Linked DNA regions of Homo sapiens. The protein of the gene in region 1 interacts with the protein of each later gene in a pairwise test. Each region holds a gene or a part of one and is shown in the gene's direction. Other genes may lie near its edges. The genes, in order: MAPK8IP2 and ANGPT1.

Region 1 (16,246 bases):
GTGAGTGCCCGGACCCACAGCTCCCTGGAGCTGAGCCTGGGTTCATAGCACCTGGGCTGCAGCCAGCCCTGCTCACCCCCTGGGAGCTGGCCCTCCTCAGGACCGCCGTCATGTATCTCCACCCCAGGACTCCCTAAACAACAACGGAGGCTTTGACCTGGTGCGTCCGGCCTCCTGGCAGGAGACAGCGCTATGCTCACCCGCCCCGGAGGCCCTCAGAGGTGAGGGGTGGTGGGCCCGCGGGGCGCGGGGAAGCGGGGGAGGAGGGCAGGGAGGATGGACTGGCTGCTGGAAGAGGCCTGGGTGGTGCAGAGAGGGTGACCCCACCTCCCTGCCCAGCAGAGCTCCCGGGCCCCCTCCCTGCCACGGACACCGGGCCCGGCGGGGCGCAGTCGCCAGTGCGCCCGGGTTGCGACTGCGAAGGGAACCGGCCTGCGGAACCCCCTGCGCCAGGGGGGACTTCGCCCTCCTCAGATCCCGGCATCGAGGCTGACCTGAGAAGCCGCTCGAGCGGCGGCCGCGGGGGACGTCGCAGCAGCCAGGAGCTGTCCTCGCCCGGCTCCGACTCGGAGGACGCGGGCGGCGCGCGCCTGGGGCGCATGATCTCGTCCATCTCGGAGACGGAGCTGGAGCTGAGCAGCGATGGCGGAAGCAGCAGCAGCGGCCGCTCCTCGCACCTCACCAACTCCATCGAGGAGGCCTCGTCGCCCGCCTCGGAGCCGGAGCCCCCGCGCGAACCCCCGCGCCGCCCCGCCTTCCTGCCCGTGGGCCCCGACGACACCAACAGCGAGTACGAGTCGGGGTCGGAGTCGGAGCCGGACCTCAGCGAGGACGCGGACTCGCCCTGGCTGCTCAGCAACCTGGTGAGCCGCATGATCTCCGAGGGCTCCTCGCCCATCCGCTGCCCCGGCCAGTGCCTGTCTCCTGCGCCGCGCCCGCCCGGGGAGCCCGTGTCGCCGGCCGGCGGGGCCGCCCAGGACTCCCAGGACCCCGAGGCGGCCGCGGGGCCCGGCGGCGTGGAGCTGGTGGACATGGAGACGCTGTGCGCGCCGCCGCCGCCCGCGCCCGCCGCGCCTCGACCCGGCCCCGCGCAGCCCGGGCCCTGCCTATTCCTCAGCAACCCCACGCGTGACACCATCACGCCGCTGTGGGCCGCGCCCGGCCGCGCCGCCCGCCCGGGACGAGCCTGCTCCGCCGCCTGCTCCGAGGAGGAGGACGAAGAGGACGACGAGGAAGAGGAGGATGCCGAGGACAGTGCGGGGTCCCCCGGGGGCAGGGGCACGGGCCCCTCGGCGCCGCGGGACGCGTCGCTGGTGTACGACGCGGTCAAGTACACGCTGGTGGTGGATGAGCACACGCAGCTGGAGCTGGTGAGCCTGCGGCGCTGTGCTGGGCTGGGCCACGACAGCGAAGAGGACAGCGGCGGGGAGGCCAGCGAGGAGGAGGCGGGCGCGGCGCTGCTAGGCGGCGGTCAGGTCTCGGGGGACACCTCGCCGGACAGCCCTGACCTCACTTTCTCCAAGAAGTTCCTCAATGTCTTCGTCAACAGCACATCTCGGTCCTCCAGTGAGTGAGAGGTGGGGAAAAGGGGGGTGGCCCAGAGGAAGGTGCAGACTCCCTGGCCCCAGTCCCAGGGTCCCCCACAGTGCCCAGGGCCACCTGAGGGTCTGGCTGTGGTCAGGGCTGGGTGCCCTCTCCCACCCAGGACATGGCATGAGGTGGCCTGCTCTGCCTCAGCTCCTTCCCGCTCGTAGGACACCTACACCGGACTGTGGAGGGGACTTGGCCTCTGCCCAAGGCCAGGCCTCTAAGCACTACTCTGACTCTGTCTCCCTGTCTCCCCCGCCTCTGTCCTGCCGGGTCTCCCAGGCACCGAGTCCTTTGGCCTTTTCTCCTGTCTGGTCAACGGCGAGGAGCGAGAGCAGACTCACCGGGCTGTGTTCAGGTACGGCCTCCCTCCTTGCTGGCGGTGGCCCCAGCCTCAGTCCCTGCCATCACGGAACGCCAGTGGACACGACCGTCAATCCCGCCCCCCTCCCCAGTGACCTCTCCCCCAACGGCAGGTTCATCCCGCGGCATCCAGACGAGCTGGAGCTGGATGTGGATGACCCTGTGTTGGTGGAGGCCGAGGAGGACGACTTCTGGTTCCGTGGCTTCAACATGCGCACGGGGGAGCGCGGTGTGTTTCCTGCCTTCTACGCCCATGCGGTGCCCGGCCCTGCCAAGGACCTGCTGGGTGAGGTCCCAACCCCGAGGGGAGGCTTTTCACCCCAGATCCTCCCCTGTGCCCCTGCCTGACCTGGGCCCTCTGTGCCCCGCTCCCCAGGGAGTAAGCGGAGCCCCTGCTGGGTGGAGCGCTTTGACGTGCAGTTCCTGGGCTCCGTGGAGGTGCCCTGCCACCAGGGCAACGGCATCCTGTGTGCAGCCATGCAGAAGGTCAGTGTGGAGGCCGGGCAAGTGCAGGCTGAGGGTCCGCTTGGCGGCCACACCAGCACTGCAGGCTGGCACAGGGCTTGAGGCTCCAAGGTCTGAGGTCTGATTTCCTCCAGGGAGGGTCTGGGGGATGCTGCAGGGGGAGCTCGGGGTGGGTACCCCAGGCCCTGGTTCAGAGGCCTGAGCAGGTGAGTCTAGGGCAGAGCACAGCAGCTGTCCCTCATCACCTCTGGGTCTCTGGGCCACAGATCTTCCAGGTGGCCCCGACTGCCATCAGCCCTTCCTCTTCCCATCTGGAATCAAGACCAGCCCTCACAGCCCCTTCCCTGGGAGCCCTCTACTCATCCACTCACTCAGTGGACGTTTAGTGAGCACCTGCCCAGGCACCAGTACTGAGGCTGAGGCTGGGGGGCAGTAGGGAGCAGGGCAGAGCAGCCCAGGGCGGGTGAGGTCTCTGTTCCTGGCTCCTGAGCCAAGCGCAGCAGCCTGCCTGGAGGAGCAGAAGGAAGATGAAGCAAGCTGACTGCAGAGAGGCGATTGCTCCTCCTGAGCCTGAGGAGTGGCCAAGGCCACACCCCTTATGTCTTCCAGAATTGCATCTCAGGGTCCTCAGCATGTGTGTCCTCAAACATAAGCTAAAAGGAGCAGAGGCGTAGTCCCACCAAGGGGAAAGAAAGGCCCTTGTGGGCTCCTCAAGACCCTCTTCTCCCCCAACTTCTTCTGTAGATTGCCACTGCCCGGAAACTGACCGTCCACCTGCGCCCTCCTGCCTCCTGTGACCTCGAGATCTCTCTTCGGGGGGTCAAGCTGAGTCTGAGCGGAGGAGGGCCCGAGGTGGGAGTGTGGGGGACTGGGGACCGGGGACTGGGGGATAGGGTTAGGCCACGGAGTCCGACGGGGCCAGGCTGGCAGGGGTGTCCAGTAGGTGGGAGGCAGGGGTGGCGCCAGGCCTCCTTTGACACAGGGACTTCTGCCCACCTCTGCTCTAGTTCCAGCGCTGCAGCCATTTCTTCCAGATGAAGAACATCTCCTTCTGCGGCTGCCATCCCCGCAACAGCTGGTGAGAGTCTGACCGTCCCCGAGTCCCCCAACCGCCCCCACAAACCCTGAGAGTCCAACCGCCCCCTGAGTCCCCACAGACCCTGAGGGCTGCCCGTGCCCAGCCCTGAGAGCTCCACCTGCACCCACTTAGCTCTGTGAGCTGAGCCTGCAGTGGCGCCTGCTCTGAGCTGGACTCAGGAGGCGTGGGTCAGACAGGCTTGCATCCAGTCTGGGTGGAGAGAGGCACACGGGCGAAGGATGTGAGAAGCCTGTGTGGGTGCAGAGGACGCCTGAGTGGGCCTGGGGCTCAGGATGGCCAGCCTGGAAACACAGCAGGTGACAGCGGTGGGGAAGTGGATCTTCCTGGTGGGGTCTAGCTGAGCCAAGGGTGTGGGATGCACTGGTCGGGGGCTATATAGGCTCTGGGGCCCGCGTGTAAGGGGAGCAGCTAGAAATGCCGGGGAAGACCTGGACCCTTTTGATTATGCCAAGGAGCTGTACTTAATCTTGCTGGTAATGAGGCCATAGAAGGCTCCTAATGGAAGGAGGTGACACAGGGGACCTGGGGGCTGCTGAGGTTATACAGGTGCTATGTCCTGAGACCAAGTGTGCAGATGCAAGAGGCACTGAAGAGGCAGTACAGGCAGGACCTAGGTTGACCGGCTGTAGAGGGTGACCTGGAAGAGACCAGGGTGACGTCTCCCTGGGGGATGGTTGTACTGCAGCCCACACACCGAGAGGGGATGCGGGATCAATCACAAACGGTGAGACTGAAGTGGCCGTTGGTCCCATGGGTCTGGAGTTTAGGAGGGAGACCTGGAGGGAAGATACCAGGTCAGAGCAGGTAGATCACTGAGACGAGAGGGGAATGGCCAGGCAGGGTGAGGGGAGGAGGGGAGGAGGAGGTGCTGGCATAGGAGCAGCAGGCCAAGGGGGGCTGCCAGCTTCCCTCCAGGCACAGGCCCCTGCCCTCTGTGTCCCAGCACCCTAGAGGAAGGAGATCTGGGAGGAACCAGAGAGGCAGAGCCAGCCAGAGGCTGGAAAGGACTTGCGGGGAGTTGGAGGAAGCAGGCTCACAGACAGGCAAGACACAGCAGGGCACGGTGCTGCCAGGACTGAGGCGTGGGACAGACGTCAGTGCATCTTGGGGGCCTTGTGGACTCTCCCTGTGGTCGAGAGTGAGGGTGCTGCCTGCTGGAAGGTGCGGAGCCCTTTTGTGTTGTCCCCGCCGAGTGCAGAGATGGTCTGATGGGATCCATGCGGAAACGCTGCTCAGTGGGGTGGAGAGGTGGGACAGCGGGCAGCGATGCAGACCAGACTGCGGGGCCAGCTCTGGGGTGGAGAGGTGGGACAGCGGGCAGGGGCGCAGACCAGACAGCGGGGCCAGCTCTGGGGTGGAAAGGTGGGACAGTGGGCAGGGGCGCAGACCAGACAGTGGGGCCAGCTCTGGGGTCACCAGGACAGCGAACGGGGCGCAGACCAGACAGCAGGGACAGCTCTGGGGTGGAGAGGTGGGACAGCGGGCAGGGGCGCAGACCAGACAGCGGGGCCAGCTCTGGGGTGGAGAGGTGGGACAGTGGGCAGGGGCGCAGACCAGACAGTGGGGCCAGCTCTGGGGTCACCGGGACAGCGAACGGGGCGCAGACCAGACAGCAGGGACAGCTCTGGGGTGGAGAGGTGGGACAGCGGGCAGGGGCGCAGACCAGACAGCAGGGACAGCTCTGGGGTGGAGAGGTGGGACAGTGGGCACGGGCGCAGACCAGACAGTGGGGCCAGCTCTGGGGTCACCGGGACAGCGGACGGGGCGCAGACCAGACGGTGGGGCCAGCTCTGGGGTCACTGGGACAGCGGACGGGGCGCAGACCAGACAGTGGGGACAGCTCTGGGGTCACTGGGACAGCGGACGCTGCCAGGAGAGGAAGAATGACCCAAATTTCTCATCAGAAGGAAACTGGGTGAAGCTCAGGTCTCAGGCTGGACAGGGCCCCAGCTAGAATTTCGTGAGAGGAAGGTGGTCAGTCGAGTTTGGGGTTTGGAGTCAAGATGTGGCAGGGGTGTGGGAGGAGGTGGAGGAGCTGCTGCCCTGGCCCAGACCTTCCTAATATTTGTCACCCCAGACCCCCCGTCCCCGGTCCCTTGCCACGAGGAGGCACGGACGAAACCGTGTGAGGTGAACGATGAACTCGTTTCTTCATGGCGGTGGTGGTAGGTCAGGAGAGCGTGGGGTGTGCTGTGTTGGGATCTGGCATTAGGATGTCTGGTGTTGGGATCACAGACTGTAGCCTTTTCTCCCAGGGCTGCCCATCCTGCCTGTGTGTCCTGGGCAAGCTCCTGAACCTCTGTGCCTAGCTCTCCATCAGGGCCCTACCTCAGAGGGCTGTTGTGAGGCTTCTGTGAGTTAATGGAAAGGGCAGAGGATGGTGCCTGAGTAATGCAGGAAGCCAGATCTGTGGGTCGGCGCTTATTACCATCATGACTTGAACGCGGCATTTGAGGCGGGCCCTGTGCTCTGTCTGTGGACAGCGTGCACACACTGTCCTGGCAAGCAGACCATCATGTGGCTTCCCATTTGGTGGAATCGCAAAGCCCCGAAGCCATGGGGGAATGGACGGGTCGGCCAGTTTCAGGGGTGGGGGTGGGGCAGCGTCCTGCTGCAGAACTCTGCCTGCCTCTCCCTCTGGACGACGATTTTTGATTTTTGCTAATGTCTGGGTGGAGGAGCTGGGCAGTGACTCCATGAGCGAGGCCCCGCAAGGAGCTGCTTTCCAGTGGGAGCGAGGGGTAGACCGGAAGAGGGTTTTACAGACCAGGGGTAACGTCCAGCCCCACCTCGGAGCTGGGCAAGGGGCTGTCAGTCTGCTAGGCCCGCAGGAGGAGGCCTGAGTTGGCAGGAGATATGGTCTCCAGTAGCCAGGCAGAGGCCTTGCTCTGTGGTCCTGGGGCAGGCCCTGAATAGGGCCACAGAGGGTAGCAGCACCGGCTCAGAGAAGGGAGAGTGGACGCCCCTGGTCATCATGGAATTAACTCAGAGCGTGAACTCTTGGTAGGTGCCCAGCCCTGTGCTTGGGCTGAAACCAAAAAAAGACAACTTCAGATCTTGAAATTGTGCGACCCCCACACTCCTGTCCCTTACCCTCTCCCCAAGCCCTTTGTTCCTGCCTCTTCTCTCTACATCATTTGTGGGGTGGCCAAGGCTGGGCCAGGGCTCTGACGTGCCCTCCACACTGACTTGCCCGCAGCTATTTCGGCTTCATCACCAAACACCCCCTGCTGAGCCGCTTCGCCTGCCACGTCTTTGTCTCCCAGGAGTCCATGAGGCCGGTGGCGCAGAGTGTGGGGTGAGTGGGGCCCCAGGGTGTGGGTGCAGAATGGGTGCAGGGTTACGGAGGTGGGGAGCGGAGGTGAGCAGGTGGGGGCAGGAGCCTGGCAGGGGAGGTCTGGGGAAGGAGAACCAGATGTGCTGTGTAGAGAGGGCAGTGGTGGGTGACAGTTTGGGGTGCTGGGCATGGGGTGGGAACAGGCACAGACACATGGCCCAGGCACTCTGGCAGGGGTAGAATTGCTGGGCCAGGAGAGCTGAGGGTCACACTTGGGGGTGACATGGCCATGCCTGGGTGGGGGGTTATGGATGGCTGCAGAGGGAGGAAGGAGGGAGAGCTCAGAGGCTCTGTGGAAGGCAGTTTGGGGGTTGAGGACCGGCCCTGAGTGGCTGGTGGAGGACCGTCTTTCCCCAGCCGCGCCTTCCTGGAGTACTACCAAGAGCACCTGGCGTACGCCTGCCCCACGGAGGACATCTACCTGGAGTAGCCTGCCCACCGCTCTGTCTCCTGGCCGTCTGCTCCAGGCGCAGCTGGGGCTGAGGATGTCTCAAGAGGCCACCATGGCTTTGGCAAGGACTGGATTGGGGGGACATGGGACCTTACGCTTGTGGGGGTCTGCGGGCTGGGAACTCTCGTCCTCGGTCCCCAGGGCGCAGCTGTTGGGGCTGCGGGGGAGTGGAGCCCCCGTGCCCCTGCTTTTCCTCAGATCCGTTCTTTCTCTGTGTTGTCCTCCTCCTTCCCTTCCCAGTCTCCCTTTTCTCTCTCCTGGTGTCTCTGCCCCTCTCTGTGCCTGCAAACCTTATCCTCTATTCTTCACTTTGGGGTCAGAACTTCGGGGGTGTGGAGGAGGTGCGGCTCTAGGGACAGGTAATGTCGGCTTCCAAGTGATGCCCTCCTGCCACTCCCCTGCGATTTATAAGGGAATTTTAATTTTTATAGTGAATCTCAAGGGATCATCCCATCCTTGACCACAGGGACAAGAGGGGCCCCCTCGCCCCAGCCCCACCCCACATGGAGCTCAGGGGGAAGCAGGGAGGGGTTCCCAAAAGAGCCCTGCGGAGGCTAGGAGTGGTTCTTGATGCTCACCTGAAGCCCCTAGACGCTGCTAGGAGGGGGGGCCCTCCTGGGCCCCCAATACCCCTCCGCTTGCCGCTGCTAGCGCACCCCTGCAGTCCAGCGTGCATCCACCCCACGCACGCCCCGTGCTGTGTTCCTGGGCCCTGCCCATGGCCTCAATAAACTCTCTGCTTGGTGTGACATTGGCTGTTTCTAGAGGGTGCTAAGACATGGGGCCAGGTGCCCAGGGGCTGCCCATTGTGGTAGGGACAGAGTCCCCAGTGGCGGGAGTGTTGTGGCAATCTCACCCTTTTAGCTCTTTCCGAAATTGTGCCGGGGGTCCCTGCGGTGCTGCTCTGGGGCCTTATCTGAGGTGCCGTATCTAGAAGCACCCTTGGGAATTCTCCCTAGATACACTCGATTGGCCACAGAGGAATCCGAGGCTGTGCAATGGGGTGTCCTTTCCACGTGCACGGACTGGGGGCCAGCACGGCTCAGGTCAGTGTGTAGTGGGGGCATGAACTCCTTGAAGAACAATCTGGCCGGGCACGGTGGCTCACGCTTGTAATCCCAACACTTTGGGAGGCCGAGCCGGGGCGTATCACCTGAGGTCAGGAGTTTGAGACCAGCTTGGCCAACATGGTGAAACCCCATCTCCACAAAAAATACAAAAATTAGCTAGGTGTCCTGGCGCACACCTGTAATCCCAGCTACTCAGGAGGCTAAGGCATGAGAATCGCTTGAACCTGGGAGGCGGAGGTTGCAGTGAGCCAAGATTGCACCACTGCACTCCAGCCTGGGCGACAGAGGGAGACTCCGTCTCAGAAAAAGGAAAAGAAAAACAATCTACTTAGATCTTAAAATGGATATTTAAAAAATTCTCCAGAGAAAGCCAGAAGAAAATAGGTGACTTTTTCACTATGTGCTTAGGTGACTGCAGATGCCCGGCAATGTTCCCTCCCAGGCCCTCCTGGGTGAGCCCGCCTCCCAGGCAGGGGTCAGCATGGCCGGGGTCCCTCTGTCTGAGCCCAGGATTCGTGCAACACCAGGAAGACAACAGTTGAAGGTTCCTTAGTGAGCTAAGGGAAGTATACACAAACTTACTACATAAACATTAGAAAGTGCTGTCCGTAAAAAACACGTCTTCACAGAGCCAACAAGCAGAGAAATAGCTGCCCAGTGTTAGGAAGTGCATCATGATCCAGAGGTTCAGCCCGTGTGCAGCGCACAGACCTGAGGCCCCAGAGAGACCGAGGACGCAGACCAGTGGCACGACGGAAACGCAGAACGTTTATGAGAAAACTTTCCTACTAATTGAGATAAAGCTGTAAAGAGGCAGATAGCCCCACTGGGTGTGTACGTTTGAAACTTGTGCCCCCTGGGCTAGGGCATTCGGGGTGTGGCCCTCAGTCCCCTGTAGCTGCTGCCTGGAAACCGCTGCCACCCACCCACCTCCTCCCTCTGCTCTTCCACTCAGGTGAGAATTCTCCAAGCCCTGCCCTCCGGCGCCCCCGTCCCGCCCCTGCCCGGCCTGGCCCCGCCCCTGCCCGGCCCCGCCCCCCAACGTGTCTTCAGGTCTCTTTCCCTCCAGCCGGCCCTTAGGACGGCTGTTGGACGTGCTCGTGAGTCCTTCGCCTGTCTGCCTTCCACCTCTCTGCAGCTCCTTCTCCAATCTCATGGTCTTCTTGAGCTTGGCCGCCCTCCACGCCCCATGCTGGGCTTGGTCGGTTCTGGGGTCTACCTCTCTGGCTTCATCCCTCCCACAGTTTCGAGGGTTTCCCTGTGCTCAGGCCCCTGGCAGCCGCCCCCTGTGCAGACCACTGGGCAGATCCAGCTGACCTCCAGGGGCACTTCCTCGGCTCATCACTGGGCCGGTGCTCTGCAGAATGAGCTGTGAGAGCCACTGTGGCTGGCCAGAGGGTGCCACTCACAGTCACTTCAGACTCACAGGAGCCTTCGTCCCGACCCCTGCATTCATCTGTGTTCTGTTTTATGTTTTTTCCCAGTCACCTGAGCTGCAGGCCTTGGTCACCCCAGACTCCTCCCTCCTGTCACCCTTATCCTCACCCCAGCACCTTTACGTCTGCCCCAGGCTCCATTTCCCCCTCTTCTGCCTGGATCAAACCACCCTGACTTTCCTGGGTCTTCGTGCAACAGCCTGCTCCGGCCGCTGCCTCACTGCACCTGCAAATCCACTTGCACCCACACCCAGGCCAGGGTTTTTAAACAGAAGCCTCAGCAGATCCCTCTCTCTGGCCAGCTCCCTGTTGAACCAGGAAGCAGGTCCCTGTTGAACCTCAGCATGACCCGCCCCCACCCCTGCATCCCACTTCTGCTCTGGGAGCCTCTGGGTTCCTGGGCGCACCTGCTGCCCTTCCCTGTTTGTCACTGGGTGACCTCCCGTCCTTGTGGGCGCTCCCGGGCCCTGGTCTCGGGCCTTCTGAGGACTTGCTCTCCTGGTAGCGGCTGCTGACTGTGAGCCCAGAGAGCAGGCGTGGCTGTTGACCTTAGGTCCTCCCAGAACCTGGCGGATCGCCTGGCTCCCAGGCAGGAGGCGCTGCATGACGCCTCCAACTTCCGCCAATCTAGCCCAAGGATGGCGTTCTAAATAAAACGCGTTCTACAGAAAAGTGTTTATTGCATTCTTCTTTGAAATAATGTAAGCATAAAAGTAATCTGAATATTGACCAATAGGGTTAATTGATTAAGGTATATTTACCTAATTGAAATATTGGGTAGATGTGAAAAAAAGTTCCAATGTTTGTAATTACACAGAAAATTTCTGTTATGCTATTAAGTGGAAATAAATTTCTGGGCACAGCAGCTCATGCTACTGTGTAATCTTAGCAATTTGGGAGGCCAAGGTGGGCAGATCCCTTGAGTCTGGGAGTTCGAGACCAGCCTGAGCAACAAAGCGAAACCTCTATCTCTACAAAAAAAAAAAAAAAAAAATACAAAAATTATCTAGGTGTGGTGGCACACACCTGTAGTCCCAGTTACTTGGGTGGGTAAGGGAGGAGGATAGCTTGAGCCTAGGAGGTTGAGGCTGCAGTGAGCCATGATCATGCCACCACACTCTGGCTGGAAAGAGCAAGACCCTGTAACCACAATGAAAGAAAAGAAGAGAGAGAGAGAGAGAGAAAGAGAGAGAGAGAGAGAGAGAGAGATGAAAGAAAGAAAGAGAAAGAAAGAAAATAGGCAGGGTCATATGTAGCATTCTAGAAACTATATGTTGAAAAATGCTGAAACACAAAAAATGTTAAAAGTCATTTTTGGCCGGGCGCAGTGGCTCATGCCTGTAATCCCAACACTTTGGGAGGCTGAGGCAGGCGGATCATGAGGTCAGGAGATCGAGACCATCCTGGCTAACACGGTCAAACCCCATCTCTACTAAAAATACAAAAAATTAGCCGGGTGTGGTGGCAGGCGCTTGTAGTTCCAGCTACTCGGGAGGCTGAGGCAGGAGAATGGCATGAACCTGGGAGGCGGAGCTTGCAGTGAGCCAAGATCGCGCCACTGCACTCCAGCCTGGGAGACAGAGCAAGACTCCGTCTCAAAAAAAAAAAAAAAAAAAAAAAAAAAAAAAAAAAAAACCACCTCATTTTTGCTGAAGTTGAGCTGAGGGTGTTTCTCTTCCTTTTTTTCCTGCAGCAAATATGTCTTAATTTTTTGAAGTATTATTTGCTACTTATTAGAGACCTCCAAGTGCAAATGGAAATATCCACAGAAAAACTAAAGATAAAAAAGTTAAGATAAATTAATCAAACTCAAACAAAAAAGTTATTTTGGCTACAATAAAAATACCACCCCATAAGGTTATCATAAGGCTTAAATGAATCTGCCAGTCAGACAGGCCAAGGGTAGTGCTTGAGTAAGTTATTATTTTTATAAACACTATAAAAGTAGGATTTCCCTATTTTTAAAAATATTACTTTCCCTGGCTGGGCGTGATGGCTTGCACCTGTAATCCCAGCACTTTGGGAGGACGAGGCGGGTGGATCACCAGGTCAGGAGATCGAGACCATCCTGGCTAACACGGTGAAACCCCGTCTCTACTAAAAATACAAAAACAAAATTCGCTGGGCATAGTGGTGGGCACCTGTGGTCCCGGCTACTCGGGAAGCTGAGGCAGGAGAGTGGCGTGAACCCGGGAGGCGGAGCTTGCAGTGAGTGGAGACCGCACCACTGCACTCCAGCCTGGGAGACAGAGTGAGACTCTGTCTAAAAGAAAAAAAAAAAAATTACGTTCCCTATAAAGAGTAACACATATCATAGACATTTTGGAGACTGCAGATGATAGAAGAAAGGCTAAAATCAACTGTATTTTTATGGCCCAGAGATAACTGTTTCTAATATTTTGGTGTATTTTTTCCAGTCTCCCTTCTACTTGAGGGTTGAAGGCAGAGGGAGGTTAGGGGAATCAAGAAGAATTTAAGGCAAAAGATAAAAGCAAAATAGCAGAGGTCGCTGCAGGCATACCTTGGAGATTTTGCAGGTTTGGTTCTAGACCACCACACTAAGATTGCAACAACGTGAGCCACACAAATTTTCTGTTTTCCAGCGTATATAAAAGTTATGTTGGCCAGGAATGGTGGCTCATGCCTGTAATCTCAGCACTTTGGGAGGCCAACGCAAGCAGATCGCTTGAGCCCAGGAGTTTAAGACTAGCAGGGACAACATAAAAAAACCCGGTCTGTATATATATTGTATACCTGTATATTTTATAGATATACACGTATGTAGTATATAGATATACATGTATATAATATATATAAATACATGCATATTTTATATATATATATATATATTAGCTGGGTGTGGTGGCATGTGCCTGTAGCCCCAGCTATTCAGGAAGCTGAGGTGAGAGAATTGCTTGAGCTTGGGAGGTTGAGGCTGCAGTGAGCTGTAATTACACCACTGCACTCCAGTGTGGATGACAGAGTGAGAACTTGTCTCAAAAAAAAAAAAAAAGTTATGTTTCCACTATACTGTAGTCTATTGAATGTGCAATAGCTTTTAAAGTATATACCTTAATTTGAAAATACCTTATTGAGCCTGGGCACGATGACTCACAACTGTAATCCCAGCGCTTTGGGAGGCCGAGGTGGGTGGATCACCTGAAGTCAGGAGTTTGAGACCAGCCTGGCCAACATGGTGAAACCCCATCTCTACTAAAAATACAAAAAAAAAAAAAAATAGCCAGATGTGGTGGCAGGCGCCTGTAATCCCAGCTACTTGGGAGGCTGAGGCAGGAGAATTGCTTGAACCCGGGAGACAGAGGTTGCAGTGAGCCGAGATTGCGCCATTGCACCCCAGCCTGGGCAAAAAGAGCAAAACTCCATCTCAAAAGAAATAAAATAAAATAGGGCCGGGCTTGGTGGCTCATGCCTGTGATCCCAGCACTTTGGGAAGCCAAGGCGGGGGGATCACGAGGTCAGGAGATTGAGACCATCCTGGCCAACATGATGAAGCTCCATCTGTACTAAAAATATAAAAAATTAGCCAGGCGTGGCCAGGCTCAGTGGCTCACACCTGTAATCCCAGCACTTTGGGAGGCTGAGGCAGGCGGATCATGAGGTCAGGAGATTGAGACCATCCTGGCCAACATGATGAAGCTCCATCTGTACTAAAAATATAAAAAATTAGCCAGGCGTGGCCAGGCTCAGTGGCTCACACCTGTAATCCCAGCACTTTGGGAGGCTGAGGCAGGCGGATCATGAGGTCAGGAGATCGAGACCATCCTGGCTAACACGGTCAAACCCCGTCTCTACTAAAAATACAAAAAATGAGCCGGGCCTGGTGGCGGGCACCTGTAGTCCCAGCTACTTGGGGAGCCGAGATCACGCCACTGCACTCCAGTCTGGGTGACAGAGCAAGACTCCGTCTTAAAAAAAAAAAAATTAGCCAGGCGTGGTGGCACGCACCTGTAGTCCCACCTACTCTGGAGGCTAAGGCAGGAGAATCGCTTGAACCCGGGAGGCGGAGGCTGCAGTGAGCCAAGATCATGCCACTGCACTCCAGCCTGGGCATCAGAGCGAGACTCTGTTTTGAAAAAAAAAGAAAACACCTTATTGCTAAAAAAATGCCAGTGATCATCTCCACCTTCAGTGAGTCATAATCTTTCTGCCGGTAGAAGGTACTGCGTCAGTGTTGATGGCTGTTGACTGATCGGGGTGGTCGTTGCTGAAGGTTGGAGCAGCTGTGGCAATTTATTAAGACAATGAAGTTTGCCACACTGACTCTTTCATGAAATATTTCTCTATAGCATGTGACACTGTTTGATAGCATTTTATTCATAGTAGAACTTCTTTCAAAATTGAAGTCAACCCTCTCAAACACTGCTGCTGCTTTATCAACTAAGTTTATGTAATATTCTTTTTTTTTTTTTTTAAGAGACAGGGTCTTGTTCTGTCACTTAGGCTGGAGTGCAGTGGTACAATAATGGCTCACTGCAGCCTCGATATCCTGGGTTCAAGTGATCCTCCCACCTTAGCCTCCCGGGTAGCCAGGACCTAAAGCAAGTGCCACGGTGCCTAGCCAACGTTTTTTTGGAGAGATGAGGTCTCACTATGTTGTCCAGGCAGGTCTCAAATTCCTGGTCTCAAGCGATCCTCCCACTTCAGCCTCCCAAAGTGTTGGGATTACAGGCCTGAGCTACTACACTCGGTCCTGTGCAATATTCTAATCCCTTGTTGTCATTTCAACAATGTCCGTAGCATCTTCACCAAGAGTAGATTCTATCTCAAGAAACCACTTTCAGCCAGGCACGGTGGCTCATGCCTGTAATCCCAGCAATTTGGGAGGCCAAGGCAGGAGAATCACTTGAGCCCAGGAGTTCAAGACCAGCCTGTGCAACATGGTGAGACCCCCATCTCTACCTAAATAAATAAATAAATAAATAAACAAGAAAATTTAAAAAAAACTTTCTTTGTCCATAAGAATCAATTCTTCATCTGTTCAAGTTTTATCGTGAGATGGCAGCAATTCAGTCACATCTTCAGGCCCACGTTTAACTCTAATTCTCTTGCTATTATGATACTTTCAACACATTTGCAGTTACTTCCTCCACTGGACTTGTCACCTCAAAGTCATCCATGAGAGTTGGAATCAACTTCTTTCAAGCCCTGTTAATGATGATGATATTTTGACCTCTTCCTGTGAATCATGAGTATTCTTTTTTTTTTTTTTTTTGAGACAGAGTCTCACTCGGTTGCCCAGACTGGGGTGCAGTGGCGCGATCTCGGCTCACTGCAAGCTCCGCCTCCCAGGTTCACGCCATTCTCCTGCCTCAGCCTCCCGAGTAGCTGGGACTACAGGTGCCCGCCACCGCGCCCAGCTGATTTTTTGTAATTTTAGTAGAGATGGGGTTTCACCGTGTTAGCCAGGATGGTCTCCATCTCCTGCCCTCGTGATCCACCCGCCTCGGCCTCCCCAAGTGCTGGGATTATAGGCGTGAGCCACCATGCCCAGCCTAGCATCTTTCTTAAGGGCCCTGGGATTTTCAGAATGGTAAATGAGCATTCAACTTAAAGCCACCAGCTGCATTAGCCCCTAACAAGAGAGTCAGACTGTCCTTTGAAGCTTTAAAACCAGGCATTGACTTCTCTCTAGCTATGAAAGTCACAGATGGTGCCGAGTGCGGTGGCTCACACCTGTAATCCCAGCACTTTGAGAGGCCGAGGCAGGCAGATCACCTGAGGTCAGGAGTTCAAGTCCTGCCTGGCCAACATGGTGAAACCCCATCTCTACAAAAAATACAAAATTAGCCAGGCCTGGTGGCGCATGCCTGTAATCCTAGCTACTCAGGAGGCTGAGACAGGAGAATCACTTGAACCCGGGAGGCGGAGGTTGCAGTGAGCCGAGATTGCGCCACTGCACTCCAGCCTGGGCAACAAGAGCAAAACTCCGTCTCCAAAAAAAAAAAAAAAATTGCGTACACTGAAGATCTATTGTTTACTGTAGCCACCCTCATCACTTACCTTAGCTGGATCTTCTGGAGAGCTTGCTGCAGCTTCTCCATCAGCACTTGCTGCCCCACCTTGCACTTTTACATCATGGAGACAGCTTCTTTCCTTAAACCATATGAACCAACCTCTGCTACCTTCCAGCTTTTCTCCTGCAGCTTTCTCATCTCTCCCAGCTTTCACAGAATCAGAGGGAATTAGGGCCTTGCTCTGGATTAGACTTTGGGTTAAGGAAATGTTTTGGCTTGTTTGATCTTCTATGCAGACCACTTAAACTTTCTCCTTAAACAGCAATAAGGCTGCCACAGTTTCTTTCTTTGTTTTTCTTTTTTTCTTTTCTTTCTTTTTTTTTGAGACAGAGTCTTGCTCTGTCGCCCAGGCTGGAGTGCAGTGGCACAATCGTGGCTCACTGCAACCTCCGCCTCCAGGGTT
Region 2 (16,246 bases), on another chromosome or scaffold:
TGCTGTTTGTTTTCCTAACAGTCCAGAGGGAGTCACTCTAAAAAGCTTCCAGTTTGCTCTCTTTAGGCAATATGTTTTTCTTTTGTTGGATGCTACCCGAAACTTAAAACCTGGTTTTGTTTCTTACCTCAAAGAAACAACACTTGGGAGTAAGGAATCTGTAACTCAACCATATAATTGGAATTACACAACCAAGAACCTAAGTAAATGGGAAACATTAATATTTTACCTTGCCCACAAAGGGAGTGAGATGAACACAAAGTAGGACACAAAATGTAAACTTTCACTAGTTTCCTCCAGTATGTTTCCTACTGCTTTCTAAAACAATGGAATAGAGGTGTACAGGAAATGATGTCCTAATGCAGTTTCCTTCAGTTGAACCAAATATGTGACTGGGTCTGTTAGTCGAAAGGTTTGGTCAACTGGCCAGTTTTCCCAGCACCCGCCCATCTCTGACTTAACCCCAACTTTTTGCAAGGCGGAAGCAAAGCCAGGCTAAAGAATATTCCAGAAGGAGCCCTTCTGTCTCACCAGGGTATACAGGAAGGGAAATCAAAACCCCATGTATACAAAGACGGAGCACACGGGCTTTCTTGATTGTGCTGAGTATGCAGAGTGAAGATTAAGGAAGTCTTCAGTAAGACCGTTCAGAGTGAACTGAAACGAGACATGTGATGGCCATTCCTACATAGTTTGAGCAATACTAGCTGCCGCATAGCTACTAGTACAAGGTAAACATCTGTGCCAGGTGCTTTAACTTACTATTTCCAATCCTCCAACCAATCCTGCAAAGTATGTATTATTATTTCTATTTTACACTTAAAAAAAGCCCTGAGGCTCACAGAAATCAAGTAAGTTGCTTATGACCAAACAGCTAAGGATATGGCAAAATTAGAGTTCAAGTTCATGGTGATTCTCTGCCTTAATTATTATAAAAATATTTTTGCAATGTGATGAGGCCTCAAGTATAATTGATGTAGTTGTCAAGTTATTCTCTTAAAACAAACAAATATTCATTTGAAGAAAGGGGTAGACCAGTTGTTTTTGGCCTGTCACTATATAGGTCATTATTTAGTCCTTCTAATATTAGAGCAGAAGATATAAACTATTTATTTTACCTTGGGAATTCACTGAACTTATTTGACATGCTCATCTATCTTCTAGCTGGAGTTATGGGAAGTTATTAAGTTAATTAATTTTAAGTGATTGAAACATGTGCAACTTCAAGATACCAAATTATGCCTTACTAATTATTGCAATAAAATACAGTATTGATATTTAATGCTTAATATGCCTAAAGAAATGAAAAATGAAATCATAGTCTTTTAAATTAAAGCTATCTTTCATTTGATAAATTATTTACAAAATGCTAAAGTAACTTGCTAACTTCTAACATTAAACTAGGCTGAATTATATTAGTTGTTTATAACAAGGATAAAAAAGGTGACTTTTTGAATTTATATTATTCTAGTCTTTTTCTTGTAAATAGAACACCTACATACTAGAATGTTACCTTTTTTCCCTGTTAATTTTTAAAATAATATTTAATAGCATATAGCATTTTCCTTTTTTTAAATTATAATAACCGTAGTATCTTGGCATGAAATACAATTCTGATCAAATTGGAAATCTAAGGCTCATCTTAATTCTTCTCTTTCCCTAATCCCCCACAACTCACCAGTCACTGTTGATGCTATCAATTCCATCTTCTAAATATTTTTCTAATCCGTCCCATCCTTTCCATTCCCACTGACTATGTCTTAGGTCAAGCTGCCATGAATTCTTGTCTAGGCCACTGCAGTGACCTCTGGGTTTAAGCTATGTGCCACTCCAGTCCTTATCCAGAAGCTGTGCCAAAGTCTTCTTTCTAAAATGCAAGTCAGACTATTTTCCTCTATTAATTCCCTCTCAACCAAATGACAATTCTCTATAACTGATAGAAGAGAGTTCAAGTTCTTTAGCACACAATACAGTCCATGATCACTATAATCTTACTTTTGCAGACTTACTTCCAATAATCTTATTTTTTAGAGGATACACGCTAATAGTTAAGAGCATGAGCTCTGAGGCCAGACTGCCTGGTTTCACTTTTCCTTGATTCCTGGGATAATCGACTAAGTCACATATTATTTGTGTGACTTTGTGCAACTTACATAGACTCTATGTGTTTTGGTTTCCTAATTTGTAACATAACAATGACAATAATTGTACTGTATGAAGTTAAGATGAAGATTGAGTTAATGTGTGTAAATCACTGAGAACAGTGCCTGACATGAGCAGCAGTGTTTAATCATGTTAGTTGTTAGTATGACACTGAACACATGATGTTATTTCAGACATATTTGATGTTTGCCTGACATTCCTTATTCAACTCACAAATTTCTGTTCATCCTTGGAAACTCATTGCATGTGTCAGCTTCTCTAACAGTCCGTCTCTGGCTCTACCAGATAGATTTGCTCATTATGACCTATGTGATAGCCCTGTACCTGTTTCCTCCCCATAATTTCACTTATCTGATCACATTATAATATATGTATGTTTCTGTGTGTGCATGTTTATTTATCTATATCCATACTATTAGGCTGTGACCTTCTAGGACACAGAGAATGTGTTTTATTTTCATTGTCTTCCTGCTCCCGGGCACAATTTTCTACACATAAGCATATTTAGTATTAAATGCATTTTGAATGCTAAATGAATAAGGAACTGGGAAATGTCCCAATAGCTCTAACCCAACAAATGCCATTTATCCATACGACACACAGAGACTCACACACACACAAAGACTCACACACACACACAACTAATAAAAATACTTATAGTGGAAAAAACAAATCATATTGTTTACATTAAATACTGTAAATCCATTTATCGTTTTCAACATGAATAAAATAGAGATCGTGTTTACACCACTATTCTGCATTGTCAAAAGCCCATTGCATGGCACTCAATGTTACTATTGTATACTCTGAGGTTCACTAATTCAGCCCACCTTTAAAATTTCTGGATAGCATTTGCACAGGCCATTCTAGACCTATGACTGTTTCCTCCATTTCTATGATAAATAAAAACAAGTAAGACAAACTTGTTGTATATACATGTATATTAAATTATATACATGCATATACAGTTGTAAGTCAAATTTCCCCTAATTCCACACCCCTACACCATACCACCTGCTAGCAGAGAATCATCATTAAGAGATTAAATTCAGTGCTTACTCTTCCAGATGTTTTCTCTAAACATACTAACATATGTGTATATATAGAGTGTGCATATTTATGTGTGTGTTTACACAGATGTACACTCATATATAATTGCACACATGCACAAGTACTTGTTTATATGATATGTGCATATATGTGTAGATTATTTTATCATTGGGGTTTTTTCTACTATTTATTTCATAATAATTTGTCATACATATATTACACATATAACCATAAACAGATATACCTCATTCATTTTCAAGAATGAGTAGCAATCTATTTTTATAGATGCACTATAATTTATAACCTATTATAAGTATTATTTATGTTAATAGATATATAATTTATCAAAACTATAATTAGTGATGTGATAATTTAAATTTTTTATAGATATTCACAAGTTATCTTCACATTTTACCTTCTCCCTAAGAGTACCTGGGCTTTCAAATTTCCCAAAACTTTGCTAGCCATCTAATTAATCTCGGCTTCTTCAGAAGTTAAGTTGTGCATGTTTTTGTGTGTATTAACCATTTGCATTTCTTCTGTGACTAGATTTCTTTTTCTGTGACTACATACTAGCCTATTTACGTATGTTTAACATTTTTTCTACTATATTGTTTATCCTTTTTTAAATTAACTCATATGAGCTCTTTAATGGATATTAAAACTTTGTAATATATGTTACAAAATTTTCTCTAGTTTATTATTTATTGTCCAACTTATTTTTTAATAGAAACATTACATCTCTGTGTTATGAAATGTATCAATCTTTTTTTTTCTTAGTTGCTGGTTTTTATAATACATTTAGCTTATTCTTCTTTACCCCAAACTTTACATTTATTTGCCAATATTTACTTATAGTATCTATGCTTCTACTCCAAATTTGAATTTCCAAACAAATATGATTTCAGACTTTGAGAGGAAATTTATTGCATTCCAATTAGACACGTAAAGTATAAATTTAACCTGAACTAAATCTGTGTGTATTTAAATGGGGAGAAAAATTACTCTTTACAAACCCATATTTGCAACACATGTTGACACCATACATGTTGAAAATAGTGGAAAATATTGGAACATCTGTAAATAGATTCAGACAGATAAAAATGAGGTTTCTATATTTTCAACATCTTCCTCCTTGTTTGAAGGGCTATATTTATACTCATAGAGCTTAGGCAACTGTCACCACTGTGAATTCATTGGCTGCTATGTTAAGAACTCTATTGTGGGAAACAATTTGAAAGGGATATCCTTTTCTGTGAAAGCTTCAAGATATGTTCAATGATTTGAAATATTTCCAATAAGATGTTGGAGAAGGCAGTGTAAAACAGGGGTATGGAGAAGTCTACCAGAAACTTCAAATAGGACTTGCTGTACACTCATTTAGAACCTTTTACTAAAGTTCGAGGCACAGATTATTTTGTTTATTTTATTCATTAAAGTGCACCTCTGCCTCAAATAGAAGCTAAGTGCCAGAATTCTATGCATGTCTCTTCTCAAAGTGTTTCCAGAAAGACGGGAAACAGGAAGTCCTAAGACTCCTGTGAGAAACTCTCTCCTTGGATTTCTAGCTCAATTTGTATAGATTTAGGTGCATGGTTTCATAAAGTGTTGTTCCATGGAACCCTAATCCTAAAAGAAGCATCTTAATAAAAACTGTTTGTTTAATATAGGCCTCCCTAAATCTTAACAATGAAACTCTTATTTTGCTTCAAAGAACATACTGAATATGCTCTAGGAAACAGTGCACTGGTGTTCAGTAACCATCCAGGTTTTGTGTTTAAAATGCAAACCTAAGCTAAACATGTAGCTGAGACTGTCATCAGGGAAAATCTGACTACTTTGACTATCTAACTTTAGGACACTGGGGCTGCAGTGTTGTCCTTCATATCAACCTCTCTATATAAAGATCCCCATGCTAGCTGAGGTGGCCACTCCCAACGGACCTGGATAACGAAAATAGTAAAGAATCAATGAAAGGCTTCAGGGACAAAATGAAATATGAGCAGTATATTAACAATATAATTAAAATTAACACATAAATTTAATGGAAGAGGTATTAAGACAGGGTAGTATTTAAGAAAATTCTAGTCCAGATGTTAAAAATCGACTTGACAAAGTAATTCTGTTTTTATACGTGGGAAAGATAAACAGGTTCAAATATTGTGAAGGATAAGCTCCCAGAACAACTAAATGGAGAGCAGCAAATATTAAGGATATGTGAAGGCAGTGCCTTGGTTCCTGGTATAACATGATGAATAAAAGGAATAGGAAGAGATTATAGTGTGTTAAGTCAAAGAGATGAGACTATAGGATGTTCATTGACACAGCAGTGGGATGTCTTGAGTAGATTTCCAGTCTAACAACTTAGAAGACATGGCTTTTTATTCCTGGTTCTGACACTTAATATCTGCATGATTTTGAAGAAAACATTTGATTCTTACCTATCCATGAGGGTCTGTAACATCTGCTCATTCTATGTTACTATATTGCTTTAAGAATCAAAGGAGATAAAGGTTTCAAATTGCTATATAACTATAATGGTGTGTTACAAGAATAAGATAATAAGTAGAGATGGTATATGGAGTTTTCTGGCAAGTGAGGTTTGCATTGAAACCATTTTGGAAGTAATGACAAGGAAGGGCTGACTTCCAAAGTAGATACTAGCCAATAAATGGGAGGAATCAAAGAGAAGAGAGCAGTCTTTTGGAAGCCAAATATGAAGAGAAGATGAAAAAAGGGGATGAGTGTAGTCAAAAGAAATGGAAGGGTCAAGAAGAGATCAGTCTTGCCTGAAGAAGTCTAAAAAGTTGTCATTAATATGAAAAATGTCCCTAATAAATAAAGTTGGTAGATAATTACTGAAGTACAAATGTTATTAAGGGCGCTCCAAGTGAAGAAATGTGATGAGAAAATGATGAGAAGAGATAATTAACTGGTAAGACTTGCCATTAGAGAAACAATGTAACATGTTTCCAATTTGCTTGTAGTTGTTATGCATATTACTTGGGTTTCCAAATCCTGTGGAATGTCTGTGCTGTAGAGTAGCCTTCTTAGTTCCATGGACAGTCTCTTTTTCACATTACATGCACTGTCTATTCTAAGATGACAAACTATATGGGTATCTTTTGATACCTGCTAGTAAGGGAGCATTAAAGGTTGTCTGATGAATTATGAAAATTAATGTTCTGTCTAACGTGCTAATGTGCGTTATATTATATATTATACATATTATGTATTCCTTTTACTCAGAAAAGCAGATCTTTTCCACAAGCCAGTGTCCAGAATTGTTTCCTTTAGTACCAGGACTTCTTTGATCTACTTTCCATTCTCAGCTCTTTCCAAGTTATCCTGAAAAACAAAACAAATCAAACAAGCCCACCTTCTTTACTGACATCTCAGATAGCAGCTATCTCTGCGCATATGTCCGCTTGAACAAGGAATACATCAAAAATAAACAGAAAAACACTGATGCAAAAATTTAAAAAAAAAGTATTATGTCTGAAACAGAAGTTTCTTTTAGCTTCTGCATTTTCATTTGAGGTTTTTATTCTCTAAAAATAAACCCTAGAGTAAGAATAGTGTCATTTTATATTTTACAGAATTATTGGCACTTAGCAACTAATAAATACAAATTATAACTATAGCATGATATTTTCCAAACCAGAATGTTACCTACTGATTAGGAAAACTGAAAGGCCAGTGCCCATCTTATTTCAAGTACAAAATGGTAATTCAGAATTTTTATCCAGTATTATATGACTATAACGTTCAAATTTTGATATCTACATGCTTGCCAGTTTAATAGGTAATGCTAAGTTTTCTCACTAGTAGACTATAACGCCTATGAATTTAAAAGGCAATTTTCTTATAAGTTAACAACTCTAAATTATGGGCATCTTGCCTCTGATCATTACCCCAGGACTAGCAAGAAAAGTAAATAAAAAGTAAACAGAGAATAAGCTAAGACACTGGTCGTGGTTAATTCTCAGATCTAAAGGCCAAAAATTAATGGGCACAGAGAAGATCTCCTTTGACGCCTACCCCAGTAGGTGGGATGAAACTTTTAACCAATAAAGATAGTGAAGAAGTTTTTTGTTTTTGTTTGTGTTTTACCACGAACTTCTCCAACAAAAAGTTACTGGCAAAGAAAAATAACATGGTAAAAGAAGATGAATCATACCTACCCCTTACAGATGTTGTTTTTCATCTTACACTGCTTACCTTGCCTAAGTTTTTCATTTCCAAAAGAATTTTTAAAAAATAAGTGATCATCACAGTTTCCCTATATTACTGTACCCAAGCTCTATCTAAATTGGGTTTACTTTATGATCGGTGCAGGGCAGGGCTCCTTTCTCTCTTGGTATTGGTAGAATGAAAGCAATTCAAAACAGAAATGGGACTTCTACTGCAGAAGTCACACAGTTTCTGCTAATGGGTCTCAATGAGAAACTTTCTTATGTGAATGTGTGCACACTACTAAAGGTATTATAAATTAGTAGAGTCTTAGCAGCCTCAGGTATTTTTCAGGCTTGACTTCACAGGCAGCTTTCCTGCCATATTCTTCGAGTACAAGTTTGTTGGCAAAGATTTGGAATGCCCAGGAGTAGTTCTGGCCACACTTCTTTTTCCTCTTCCTCTTCTTCTAAACAATGGAAATGTATTCTCTGAATATTCTGGAGGCTGAAAGTCCCAGATCAAGGATCAAGGTGCCTGCAGGGCTAGGCTCTCTCCGAAGGCCCTAGGGAAGACTCGGTTCCAGGCCTCTCTCCTACCTGCCAGTAGTTCCTTGGCTTGAGGCAGCAGTGCTCCAATCTTTACACAACCTTTTCCCTGTGTGCACATCTGATCTGTCTCTCAACATTTTCCCTTTTTATAAGGACACCAATCATAGTGGATTAGAAGCTCATCCTCCTCCAGGATGACCTCATCTTAACTAATTACATCTGCAACGAATCTGTTTCTAAATAAGGCCACATTCTTGACTTCCTGGAGGTTGGGACTTCACACACACACACACACACACATATATATATACATATATATACATATATACACACACACACATATATATATATACATATTTTTTTTTTTTGGCTGGGGGGCAAGCATGGGCAGGCCATAATTGAACTCGTAACAACCACTTAAAACAGTACCTGACACTGGCCGGGCACAGTGGCTCATGCCTGTAATCCCAGCACTTTGGGAGGCCGAGGCGGGCAGATCACAAGGTCAGGAGATCGAGACCATCCTGGCCAACACGGCAAAACCCCATCTCTACTAAAAATACAAAAAATTAGCTGGGCATGGTGGCAGGCGCCTGTAGTCCCAACTACTCGGGAGGCTGAGGCAGGAGAATGGCGTGAACCCAGGAGGCGGAACTTGCAGTGAGTAGAGATTGAGCCAAGATCACGCCACTGTGCTCCAGCCTGGGCGACAGAGCAAGACTCTGTCTTAAAACAAACAAACAACAACAACAAAAAGCAAAACAAAAAAACAGTACCTGACACATAGCAACCATGTCATAAATGAGAGGTATCATGACTAGTATGATTGACATCATCATCACCATCTACCATGCTGATCCATCCACAAGGTTTCTGGCATCTACCAGGATGGCACAGCTTCTGCCACATGGACTTCTCTCGATTCCCTCACAGTCTTTTATGCCATTTAAGCCTTGGACCCACACTTCTTAATCTGTGTAAAAGACAATCAGATGTTACACTTTGTCCCCCAGTACCTGGTGTTGGAAGATTTGGCTCTTCAAACATGCTCTATTTTATAATTTAAGTATTGAATCTAAAACACTCCCTAGTGTCCCCTTTTTGAAAGGAATGATTCAGTGCTGTATTTCTCCAAGGTAAATTAAGTGCCCATTCTGGTATGTGGCATTTTAATAACACCTTGTAAACTAAGGACGGGTTGAACCTTCTGAAAACAGAACTGAGAAAACCGAGTAAGCCTTTCCCCGGAGGAAAACTAGTATATTAGACACTCCATAAAATGTTAATGCTTTTTATTTCCAGTCAGTTGGTAGGCTCCAAAAATGCTTCTGCTTTCTCTATCATTTTTAATGTGCAATATACAAGGGGAATATCCTATAAAGAGCTCAGGGAGAAGGAAGGGCCTCAGTTAAAGATTTCAACACTCTGAGCAAAGCATCCCAACTCCTTTCAGAAGACCATACCATCAGCCAAAGGGAGTCTTCCTTTTGTTACCATTTATACAGTGACTTGGGAACTTGTAGTGTCATTAAGCCTCATCCTGAAGCTTGAGTTGAGAAATAAAGGAAGCTAGTGGTTATGATACAGGACCAGTTATCAAAAATCACAAGAATTCATTGTGACTTTAGATAGATCACTTTTGGCTCCTGTGGTTTCTGTGTCAATATAGTTTTCTTTTTGTATGTGTGTGTGATTGAGAATGTATATTGCTGTTTTTTCTTTTTTCACCTAACATATTTTGAGCATTTTCTAATATCCTTAAAATGATTAAAAATATTTTCAACAGTTTCAAAATAAGAGATTTTTTTCTTTCTTAATGTCATTGTACATAAACCTTTGTGTTTCTGATTATTTCATATTTTTCTCTTTATTTCTGATTTTGCAGATGGTCAATATACTATTCTTGATCCCACAGAACTATCGTGAAATTTAGTCAATGTTAACGTTTTGAAAACCCCAAATAAATGAAGCAAAGTGAATAAAAAGTAGTTTCTACGTGTTGTTTGTTTTTTTCCTGAACTATTCTGTTTCCTCTTAGGCCCATTTCTTTAGTGAAAGTTATACTATAACTTCTTTAGAGTGTAGCTATTTGGGTGTAAGTTAGCTACCTTGGATATAAGATACACCCAAGGAAACCAAGAAACTAAATCATAGTTAAAAGCAAACATTACTCTGACAATATCTGGTTTACTTATTTTTTATTTGACATGTTATATGTGTAACTCCTATTCTGAAGAATACATATTCTTAAGTCTCTCACTTAAAAATATTTTTACAGTGAAATGTAAAATTTCTCATCTTAAATAAATTCAGGAACCAATTGAATTATAAGGGTTTTTTTGTATAACATTTTTTCAAATCTAAGTTTTATTTTCACTTCCTTGTAGTTTATTAGAACATAAAATCTTAGAAATGGAAGGAAAACACAAGGAAGAGTTGGACACCTTAAAGGAAGAGAAAGAGAACCTTCAAGGCTTGGTTACTCGTCAAACATATATAATCCAGGAGCTGGAAAAGCAATTAAACAGAGCTACCACCAACAACAGTGTCCTTCAGAAGCAGCAACTGGAGCTGATGGACACAGTCCACAACCTTGTCAATCTTTGCACTAAAGAAGGTGGTAAGAATGTCTTCCTCACTTTGGTATTGTTAATATTTTATTTCCTTTGATCAAGTAAATACTCAATATAGCTTTCTACAGTGCATTGATTGCTGTGTAAAAAATAGCAGAAGAACTTTATGGTTAGAATCATTTATGAAGTTATGTTGATAATTTTCTCATGTTTCTACCTGGAGAATGTATTCATAAGCCTAAATTTGTGAATCCACAATGTCTTTCTGAAAGAGCTTTCTAATTTCTTCTTTCTTTGTCTTTTAACCTTAGATAAAATCTGTGATACTGTCGTGAATAAATAATTGGTATTATGGTGTTAGACACTTAACTATATATAGGACAGAGATGAGCCAATGTTAAAAATTAGTTCATAGTGCTGGGAGAGTTTCAGGAGGATTTCCATTTTTAAATGAATATTTATTATTTCCTTTTAAAGGGAATGGGGTAGGAAATTGTGGGTTGCAGAGAAACGGAGACAGACTATTTGAAACAAGTATTATGAGTGAGGCAGGATTATTGTTATTAAAAATGTTTATTAAGATCACTTGTGCTTAGTCCTGTGCAGGATAGATTTAATCAGGGTATTTAAGTTCATTAATTCTGGGGTATCTTTGTGACAGTGGAGATACAAATTTTTGATATCACTAGAATGTCTGGAGTCATTGAACCTTTGGGAATATCTACAACCCTGTATTTCTTTAGAAGGCATACATCTGTCTATCCATCCATCCACCTAACAATTATTGAATGAATGCCTCTGCTTGCACCTGTTTCCTTCAAGCAGAACCTCTAGTGAGCCTCAGTAGAGCTCTTCAAAGTTTGGAACTTGAAGTCATCTTCTGTATTTCTCTAATCAGCCTTTCTCTGAATGAAGATGGAATTGTAAATGGTGATGAGTGAAAGAGAATACCACTTACATCTGCAAGTTGTTGTTATTAAGCTGTGGCTTATGTGACCATTCATGAAGTGGTTCAGTGAGCATATGCAATGTACACATGGGGAGGCTCCTTTAATTTAAAAGTGGATTTGAGCTATGTGACAAATTTGTTCAATTTCATGCTTTCATCTATAGTTATGAATAGGGAAGATAACTCCATATTAAGTGATTTTGTTTTAAAGACATTTCATATTTCTCTATTACACTCCATTACCTCGAGTTATATCTCCTTTAGATAGTCTAAACAAGCCTTTAATATGCTTTGTAAAGTAATATTTTTTAAACAGTGAGTTCCCAGAGCTCCATTTGGGTGTGCTCAGTAATGTGGTTGGGAAGGGAAAAGCCTGCTAATCAGTCAGACTCTGCCAAAATCTTGAGTTAGAGTCCACTGGAAGGAAAGCATGGTAGTATTTTGCCAGAGAATTTTAATAGAACTCATGAGTATTTAACGATTAAGTATTAATACAAGTTATATCTATTCTCATATTGAGCTGAATACATTTTGGGAAAGATTGAAAACACATTTTTCTTATCATCCTAAGACTTAAAGCACATGGAGTGGAATAGTGGTTTTTATTTCATGATTTTAGGGATGTCAAGCCCTAGTGATTCTCACAGAGCTCATATGTCTGCGTACTTATCATAATTTAACTTCTTTTCTGAGTATTTGCCTAATAAATGTGTCTTTAAGCTTTTAGAGGAAGAGGATGTGACTTTAGAAGTAAACATTCTGGCTAGGTTTCAACTTTGGGCGCAATATCAGGGAAGCAAACATCTGTTCAATTTAAGAAACATTTTTGAAAAATGAGGATAGCCATGATAGATGGTACCCTTCATAGCCATTCAGGAAGTGAAAAAAGTAACTGTGTCTGTTCTATGATGTAGTATATCCAAAAATAGTAATAATAATCATAGAAACTGAATTTGTCTAAATATTCCAGGCCTCTAGATATCTTTTCTTTTTAATGACAAAACTCTGAAATGAATCTTGATTTAACTACAGGATTTGCCATCTTAATTTAAGGTGATTGCCTAATTTTCCAATAGGTTCTCTGCTGTCATGACCATAGATTTTATTTGCTTCTTGTTAATCTCTTTTTTCTTTAATCTTACTGTTAAGCGTTCTAACTAAATATTTAGTTACTTTTAGAACTCATAAGAGACACAAAAGTGGAAAGTGGCTCTCATAAGGTTTTTATGAAGATTTTCATTGTCTGCATATCTTTATTTTCACTGGAGCCTTAGTCGTTGGCTATGGTGAATTTAAAATTTTAAATGGCTAATAGCATAATACTAGATTGAATATCAGTTATTAAAATGAACTTTTATTCAAATTCTAAAACACATGGGTAAAGCCTTTCTTTGTTTTATGACCAAAATTTATATATCATATAAATTTATTATTTATTGAAGGATTATATGTAAATATTTTACTTATAAATTTATATATATGCAAATATTTCAAAATAAGCATACCAGAATAAACGCATCAAATATTCTAAAATGTACATTTTAAAGCTCAAATATAGGTATTCTACAAGATCTTAAAAAACACGAGCTGTGTCGTCATCCAAAAAGCCAAACATTTTAATTGACCCTAAAAGGTCTTCTGGTTTCAATCTGACCCACTAATCTGTGGAGACAGCCTGAATATAATACTGCAAGGCCAGACTAAAAAAATGTTAATGAGCTTCCCCTGTCATTGGCAACCAGTTTAACCTTAAGGAAGCTGTCTCATCATGTATAAAGTCAGGAGAATTCTGTCTATTTCACCACAATAGGGAAAGAATTACATTAGATGCTCAATATACAAGCGAAGATCCCATTGCTGAAGACACAGTTGATTCATTAAACTTTAGTTTCTTCTTTCTCCTTCGATGGACAAGATTCAGTTAAGTACATTCATTATGTGCTTTATAAGCAAAACTTCCTCTGCAGAAAATGTTTAAATACAATGCCCCGGAGTGTTTGAGTGTTGACAGTCATCCAGGCAGCTTTTTTGGCCTCCATTTTCTGATCTCTAAAATGGGATCATAATATCTACCCGGTAGGTATGTAGTACACCATAAATATATACAACTTTTGTCAATTATGTAGTTCAAAATTGCCAAAAAAGTGGATTGTAAATGTTCTGACCACAAAGAAATGACGAGTATGTGAGGTAATGGATATGTTAATTAGCTTGATCATTCTGCAGTGTATACATGTACCAAAACATCACGTTTTACTCCAAAAATATATACAGTTATTATTTGTCATTAAAAAATTCAAATTTAAAAAAGAAATAGAGGGCCTAGAATAAATACATACATAAACAAGTAAATGAATTAATTTCTTAAATGTTGAAATATTAAAAGAGGTTAGTATAAAACGCATAGCTTCTGTGTTAAGTCATAGTCAACATTAAAATAATCGTAATTATCTTTATTTTAGTGCCTTCTAAAATGCCTATAATGCATTAAAGTTATATGATAAAGAATTCCTAGGAAGTGTTGGCTAGACATGTACTTTTTTTCCCAAACATTTGTTTGATCCAGAAACTGTAAATCTATCTTTGCATTCAGAGAGTGCTTTTGTTTAGTTTCACAGCACTTTTTCTACTAACACATCTGATGTTGTGAGATACTTTTAAGAAGGACAACTAATAAACACATTATCTGAAATAATTCACCAAACTTTCCTCTTCTTATTCCTAATAGACAATAATGGTGTCTTAGGCAAATAGTCAATTCAAACTGAATTGCATCCACTTTGTAAGGCTTCTGAGTAACACATTTATTTTTGCCTAACCTTCATCTGCAAACATTGGGCCACATTTATTCTTAGAAACATTATCCACTAAAGAAATATTGCCCTCAGTGTTATCACAATGTCAAAGCTCAGCCTATTGCTTCATGTTTTTGGCAATTCAAAATTACCAAAATTAAATATTTGCTGGAATTAAGTAATTTACATTAATAAGGCATACAAACAAGGTTTGGAATCTTTCAGGGGAGAGTAATCAGTTACTGTGACTATTAAAAAACCACTAGTTGGCCAGGCGCGGTGGCTCATGCCTGTAATCCCAGAACTTTGGGAGGCCAAAGTGGGTGGATCACTTGAGGTCAGAAGTTCAAGACCAGCTTGGCCAATATGGTGAAACCCCATCTCTACTAAAAATACAGAAATTAGCTGGGCATGGTGGCACATGCCTGTAATCCCAGCTACTCAGGAGGCTGAGGCAGGAGAATTGCTTGAACCCAGGAGGCGAAGGTTGCAGTGAGCTGAGATCACGCCACTGCACTCCAGCCTGGGCAACAGAGTAAGACTCTGTCTCAAAAAAAAAAAAAATAAAAATAAAAATAAATTCACTGGTTATCTATGTACACTGGTGATTAAAATGTCATCTCATGTTGAGCATACACGTGGCAAATATATAATTGGGAATTTAATTACTAACAGCATGTAAAAAAAGGAAGGAAGGAAAAAAGAAAAGAAAAAGTTTTTAAAAAAAGTATTTAGACTGTATTATAAACTTACATAGTCTGATTGTCTCACACTGCTCAAATCAGCTCGAAGCTCATTTCTGCTGTAGCAGGATGTGGTTCATAAATTTATCCATTCATTCAAAACAGTTCTGCAGCAACTGTTCTGTTCTGGGGAAATGATATTTATTCATTTTTATTTAACAAATATTTGGTAAGTTTCTATAATGTGCCAAATATTGCTCAGACTACTGGGAAGAAGAAAAGATGTATTTCATTCTGTGGCTTTAAGGAACCTAGGGTTTGATAGGAGAGAAAAAAGTAAACAATTATTTTTCAGAATTATTTGCTAGAAGTGAGCCTAGGGTGCCTGGACCCGAGCAAAGCTCACAGAGAAATATTAAAATCATGGCAGGAACAGAAGGATAAGGGCAGAATCCAGCATCTCTAGAGTTTTCTTGGGGATTTTACTGAATCCTTATTATGATTCTAGTTTGCTTAGGCTTTCCACGTGTTAGCCCTTACAACAGCAACATGAGGGAGTTACCATGTCTAGCATAATTTTATAACCTCTACAGAGAATTTGAGAATTTGCCCAAAGTTACAAAGCTGGAAATCATTGATCTAGGATTAAAATATAAGCAAGCTTGTTCTAGTGGGAAGATGATAGTTAAGTCTAAAAAATGAAGAAAGTGAAGGACACACCAGAGAGTACAAACGGCATGTTTATTTTCCAGAAGTCATGGGAGCGGGCTGTAGCCTAAGTCTTAAAATGAATTTAGAGAGAGGATCTCTGAGGGAGACCAAAAAGGCCACATTTTTTCTATAAAATCAATGAGCAGTCATTGTCAATATATGATGATAATGGTGATATTTGTGTTTTACAAAAATCTCCCCAGTGACAATGTAGGAAAAATATACTGTAAAGCTGAGAAGCCTGGAGTAGGGGACCAGATGGGTGCTTTTACCGTTATTATAATATCAGCAAATACTTGACACAAGCCAGTCTTCTGAGACCTTTGCATATATTAGTTTATTTAATTCTGGTAACAACACTGTATGATAGGTTCTATTACCAACTCTATATGAAAGGTAAGCTAAGCACAGAGAGGTGAATAATGCTTAAATATCACACTACTAGCAAGTGAGCAAGCTGAGATTTGAACCCAGAGTCTTGTTCTGAATACTGTACATTACACGCTGCACCATATTGGACAGGGAAGGTAGAGTTGATGATTTTTGTCAGAATTTCAAAGTGATCTCTAGGAAAGAAATAGTAAGGTCCATATTAAAC

The links.
Region 2: the proteins of MAPK8IP2 (region 1) and ANGPT1 interact in binary tests that used the Homo sapiens proteins (3 or more experiments, as listed by UniProt).

What each region holds. Positions count from the first base shown.
Region 1 is NC_000022.11:50,603,499-50,619,744, forward strand, and holds the end of MAPK8IP2 (C-Jun-amino-terminal kinase-interacting protein 2), read left to right. Parts: intron 1-127; coding exon 128-221; intron 222-339; coding exon of another isoform or gene 340-342; coding exon 343-1,566; intron 1,567-1,869; coding exon 1,870-1,945; intron 1,946-2,063; coding exon 2,064-2,236; intron 2,237-2,326; coding exon 2,327-2,436; intron 2,437-3,159; coding exon 3,160-3,267; intron 3,268-3,422; coding exon 3,423-3,493; intron 3,494-6,713; coding exon 6,714-6,812; intron 6,813-7,208; coding exon 7,209-7,281; 3' UTR 7,282-10,480; downstream 10,481-16,246. UniProt on the Homo sapiens protein: The JNK-interacting protein (JIP) group of scaffold proteins selectively mediates JNK signaling by aggregating specific components of the MAPK cascade to form a functional JNK signaling module.
Region 2 is NC_000008.11:107,316,207-107,332,452, reverse strand, and holds part of ANGPT1 (angiopoietin-1 isoform 1 precursor), read left to right. Parts: intron 1-10,324; coding exon 10,325-10,557; intron 10,558-16,246. UniProt on the Homo sapiens protein: Binds and activates TEK/TIE2 receptor by inducing its dimerization and tyrosine phosphorylation.